Regions from separate parts of the Homo sapiens genome. Here region 2 is linked to region 1. The links come from fine-mapping of genetic effects on gene expression. Tissue or cell type: skeletal muscle. Region 1 holds a variant in brackets; the other region holds the start of a gene. All regions are shown on one strand. Distances are between the middles of the regions.

Region 1 (2,754 bases):
TTGTGGCTACAGCTTTGTGCCTTTTAGGGTTACACGATTCAGGAGATGATAAAATTGCCTCCCAACTAATATTGTCCATGCGGAGGCTTCACAGATCAGCGATTTTCACCCTAAGGCTCGCATGGGCTTGTGGTCACCGCATCTCTCTTCATCTCGCAGCCTTCGCAAGACGGGAGGGAGGCTGCGAGATGAGTCTGTGGGATGCAAAGGAGCCACGGCCACCCCACATCTTCCGCAGATAACACGTTCACACCTGCGCCCCTTCTATTTAAAAGAAACAAAATCTCTCACTACATCTCACTTTTTAGAGATAGCCTTTGATGATATTACTGCCAGCATTTTGTAAATGTTTTAAATATTTTGTTCTCTTCCTTTGCACCGATCATAGTGAACTGGCTGAAATCAACAGACACTCAACTGTTGCCCGCTAGGCCATGGGCACCACAGAGCAGAGACCAGGTCTTCACCAAGGTCCCTGATGCAGGACCCCGAGTCCACACCCACAGGGCCTGCGCAGGAAACACTGCTCACGAGGGACTTCACGGGGCTGCAGGAGGAAGACAAGTGCTCGGAGTAGTGACGGGCACAAAACTTCAGCAGTGCAACCAGACAAGATGAAAATATTACCACACTGAAATATTACAATTTCTCTAATTTCTCAACACTTTCACTATTGTCATCTTTCTGAAATCTGCACTACCTTTTTGTGCTTATCACTACTATAAGCATTTTGATTTCTTCCTGTTTTCCATTCCTTTTATTAAACAGTTTAAATATACAGAGAACAAGGAGTATATCAAATGCTCACATACCCACTAAGGAATTTGCTAAATTTTAAACCTGTAACATATTTGCTTCAGATTTTTAAAGAAATAAAGTCCTAAGGGTGCCGCCAAGGAGCTCTGTAAACCCCTTGCTGTGGGGCCCCTCTTCCCTCCACCCACACTCCCCACAAGGAGGTCTGTAAACCCCGTGCTGTGGGGCCCCTCTTCCCTCCACCCACAGTCCCCACTTGACCTTATTCTGAAAGTTCATCATCCCCTTGAATGCATTTCTACTTAATGTTAACACCTATAGATCTGGAGGCAACACTGAGTTTATTATTTTGTAATATTAAACTTCACAGAATCAACATTTCTGCGACTTGCCGTTTTTGACCACCACTATATCTGCAAATTATCCATGTTGATGCACAAAGCTCTGATTCATTTTTAAAACTGTTGTAGAACAGACCACAGTTTATCCATTCATCTCTTGGTGGACGTTCAGGAATTCCATTTATTCACTAATACAAAAATGGCTGCATGTAATCCCAGCACTTTGGGAGGCCAAGGC[G/A]GGCGGATCACGAGGTCAGGAGATCGAGACCATCCTGGCTAACACGGTGAAACCCCGTCTCTACTAAAAATAGAATTAGCCGGGCGTGGTGGCGGGCGCCTGTAGTCCCAGCTACTCGGGAGGCTGAGGCAGGAGAATGGCGTGAACCCGGGAGGTGGAACTTGCAGTGAGCTGAAATTGTGCCGTTGCACTCCAGCCTGGGCGACAGAGCGAGACTCCTCCTCAACAACAACAACAAAGGCTGCATGAATATTCTAGCACATTGTGGGGGAAACCTCCTTTCCCCTCGCTTGCATTTTCACAAGAAGGGAATGTTTCCTCACCACTCCTGGCCTCTTGCCTGGTCCCACATACATTACTCCCAGGGAGACAAGGGCGCTCTTCCTGGAAATGGATAGAGCCCGTCTTCCTTTGTGAACCAGCCAGCCCACGGCACCTGGTCTCAAGGTTCTCTTGCAGACCTGAGTTTCACAGGGCAGGCCCTGCCCACGGAGGCCTCTGGAGGCCAACGCTGCTTGTGGCTGGACAATGAGTCTTGCTCCGAGGTTAAGAATGAAGCCTAAGAAGCTCATCACTGCCAGGCATGCAAACCACACCTTCTTCACAATCCAGCTGCCATTCTGACCTCCAGGTGCCTGCCTCCTCTGTTCCTCTTTCTATGTGTTTTCAGCACAGGCAAGGCAGAGTGGAGTTACACATTTACTGGACTCCTTCGAGGGTTGGGCCCCTCGAAGGGGCTAGAAATCTTGAGAAATAGAAAAGGAGCAGAATTTGCATCAAAATCCATGTAAGAAGAGTGACTGAGGCCGCTGCTGTGGCCAGAGCTAACACCTTTAAGCTCTGGTGAGACAGTCTTAAGTTTGGGCTATATACAAATTTCTTTTCTTTTCTTTTCTTTTTTTTTTTTTTGAGATGGAGTCTCACTCTGTGGCCCAGGCTGGAGTGCAGTGGTGTGAACTCAGCTCACTGGAAGCTCCGCCTCCAGGGTTCAAGCAATTCTTGTGCCTCAGCCTCCCGAGTAGCTGGGGATTACAGGCGTGTGCCACCATGCCCGGCTAATTTTTATATTTTCAGTAGAGATGAGGTTTTGCCATGTTGGCCAGGACGGTCTTGAACTCCTGACCTGATGTGATCCACCTGCCTTGGCCTCCCAAAGTGCTGGGATTACAGGCATGAGCCACCATGCCTGGACATATATAGGAATTTCTAATAAAATTTCAAGCATATGCAAAAGTAGAAAGAAAAATACAGTGCATCTCAAGGAACAAATAATCCAGTTTCCATGATCAGGCAGACTAACCTTGTTTCATACACTAACCTCCACTCTACCCTCCTAAGGGAAACCCCAGTCATCCTCTTAACCATACCTTTCAATGTGCATCTCTAAGACACAAGGCTGGTGTCCAAATTGGGAAGAAT
Region 2 (2,754 bases), 26 kb after region 1:
CAAATTCTACCTAAGACCAGGTGCGGTGGTTAATGCCACTGCTGTATTACGACACAATTATCTGTATTCCCAGCGCTCTGGGAGGCTGAGGTGGGCGAACTGCTTGAGGTCAGGAGTTGGAGATCATCCTGGGCAACACAGCAAGACCCTGTCTCTATTAAAAATGAAATAATTAGCCGGGCGTGATGCTCCCTGTGGCCCCAGCTCCTGGGGAGGCTGAGGCGGGAGAATCGCTTGAGCCTTGACCAGCCACTGCACTCCAGCCTGGGCGACAGCAAAACTCTGTCTCAACAACCACAAAAAAGCTTTAGAATATTTAAGTCAAGCCTGTAGGAGAAAAAAACTACAAATATTTCACAAGTAATCCAATCATTAAGACACTCCTTTTGAAAAAGCCGGTAAATAAGATAAATTTGGAAGACAGAATAATCAGAAAAACAGGCAGTGAATAGGGACCCGATACGCAGCGGTCTTGCTTCCCCCGCGCAGGCGTCCACACCCTGGGTCATGGACACCGTGAGGAGCCGTTAGGAGTCACAGGAGGGGGGCCAGGGACAGGGCTGCATCTCTGCGGCCGGCCCTGGAGGCCCCGAGTCCACCCGGGCGGCCAGGGTGGGAACGCAGGTTCCATTCCAGGTTAGAACGTGGGCCTCAGCGAAGAGCGCCTAGGCAAGGCCTGGAGGAGCGGGACCCCAGGCCACACAGACCACCCGACCCCGGGAGACAATACCTGCAAGAAAAGGGGAGCCCCGAGGAGAGAGAGAGGGGAGGTGAGCCCCAGGGAGGGAGAGAGAGGAGGGGAGCCCCAGGGAGGGAGGGAAGGAAGGAAGGGGACCCCTGGGAAGGGAAGAAGGGAATGGGAGCCCCGGGGAGGGAGAGAGGGGAGCCCCAGGGAGGGAGGGAAGGAAGGAAGGGGACCCTTGGGAAGGGAAGAAGGGAAGGTGAGCCCCGGGGAGGGAGAGAGGGGAGGGGAGCCCCAGGGAGGGAGGGAAGGAAGGGGACCCCGGGAAAGAGCCCCGGATGGACGGGCCTGGTGCTCACCGGGACGCAGGGATCCGCGCCCGCCCGTCCGGCCCGAGCATCACCGTTCCGCGGCCTGGGCCGGGCTCTGAGGCGCCAGGACCCGAGGGGCGGAGGGGGACGCTGTCTCCCGCCTCGGAGCGCAGCGCCGGAGGGCTTCCTTGCATCCCTTCCCAGGCGGGACCAGGGAGGCCGGGAGGCCGGGAGTCCGGGAGGGAGCGGCCGCCGCCCTGCCCAGCACCGCCCCCGCTCAGCCAAGCCGACCCGGACTCCCGCCCAGCCGCAGTCACTGCCCCCTTTAAGAGGCGGGGCGTGGGCGGGTCCCGTCGGCCGCGGGCGGCGAGCACTTCCTGGCCGGCGTGGGGCCTGGCAGCCGCAGGCTGGCGTTGGACCCCGCAGGGGCGAGCCAAGGCCCTCGCAGAGGGCTGGACGCGCAGGGGCTGTGGGGCGCGAGCTCCCGTGGGCCCCCGGGCGGCGCTGAGCATGCCGGGAGTGGGAGTCCCCGCGGCCGGCTCCCGGCACTGCCCCGGAGCCGAGGGCCGCGGCCGTCCGAGGACGAGGGCGGAGCCGCCGCCGCGCCTGCGCAGAAGGCCGGGGCCGGCCAGAAGCGGGCGGCGCGGGGGAGATGGTAGGTGGCCCGGCGTCGCCTCTGCCCGTCGGGGTCGGGGTCGGGGTCGGGCCCCAAGGTCGGCGCAGGCGGCGCGCTGGATGTGGGAGGCCGAGCCCAGCGAGCTGCGCGGGGCGTTCCGCGTGGATCCGAGGGAGGAACGCGCCGCGGGCCCGCGAGCCGGAGCGGTGGCGTCGGAGGCGCGGGACCGCGGGGAGCGCGGGTTTGACCCGGAGCCGCGAGGGACGACCGGGAGTGAGCGGAGGGCGGGGGCCGGGAGGAACTGTAGGGGCCTTGGGGCAGGGGCCGGGGCCGAGCGGGAACCCAGGCCGGGGGCTTCCCAGGGCGGCTTCGAAACGGGCAGTCGAGGCGGGCGAGGGCTCGGCTGCTCCTGCGGGCGTCTGTGCAGATGCTGAGGCTGTTGACCAAAACAGCGCAAGGAAGGAATCCGCGAGAAGCTCAGATTCGCGGGGGAGGCCCTGCTGCCGGGAGGGGAGGGAGAGGCACAGCGGGGCCCTAGCGCGGGCTCTAGCCGGGAGCTGTAGCGTGGCTGTAGGTGTGCATCTGTGGAGCTGGTAGAGTTCCGCAGCGCAGGAGGGAGGCTGCTGGAGGTGCACATCAGTTACTTTGAAATGTGGTGGAAATGGTGATGGATGGGATTTATTCAGTCCACATCGGTTCAGAGGCCAGCAAGGTGCTGCTGGGTGTGACTGGTGCTGGGCCAGGCATGATCTTGGCGTTGAGGGAGTTGATGCCCCAGCAGGGGAGACAGGCACCAGATGCACAATTGTTTGACCACAGTTGGGACAAAGGCTAAGGCACGGGTTCCAGGAACTTGTAGGATGCGGCTGTGGGAGTGGTGTCAGATGCTGAGGGTGTGAGTTGAACTGTGGAGAATTTCTCTGGAAATTAGCCAGAGAAAAAGTGAGGTTCCGGGGCAGCCAGCCGTGTGCGGCTCCAGGCAGAAGAAACAGAATGCACAGACCCTTAGTGGTAGGCGATGATGACGTATAGGAGCTGAAAGATTGTCCTGGCTAAGGCACAGAGAGCCACCGGAGAAGGGACACGGTAACGTGTAGAGGGGAGTGGAGGGTGAGGACAAGCTTCAGGATGGGAGAAGAGCCACA

The links. PIP is the estimated chance that this variant, and not a neighbour inherited with it, causes the effect.
Region 2: it holds the start of SLC9D1, and the variant in region 1 is fine-mapped to the expression of SLC9D1 in skeletal muscle (FUSION, PIP 0.95).

The regions. Positions count from the first base shown.
Region 1 is chr13:113,516,056-113,518,809 of GRCh38, reverse strand. All of the region lies in intron 7 of SLC9D1 (solute carrier family 9 member D1), which reads right to left. Among named protein-coding and RNA genes, the nearest start is that of SLC9D1, 26 kb to the right of the region's middle. The variant G/A (reference allele first, on the strand shown) is at 1,336.
Region 2 is chr13:113,489,561-113,492,314 of GRCh38, reverse strand. It overlaps SLC9D1 (solute carrier family 9 member D1), which reads right to left and starts at 1,294. Exons shown (of 13, transcript NM_017905.6): 1 at 1,042-1,294. It overlaps DCUN1D2 (defective in cullin neddylation 1 domain containing 2), which reads left to right and starts at 1,604. Exons shown (of 7, transcript NM_001014283.2): 1 at 1,604-1,648. The coding sequence starts at 1,646. RefSeq lists a silencer at 984-1,903 and an enhancer at 2,134-2,433.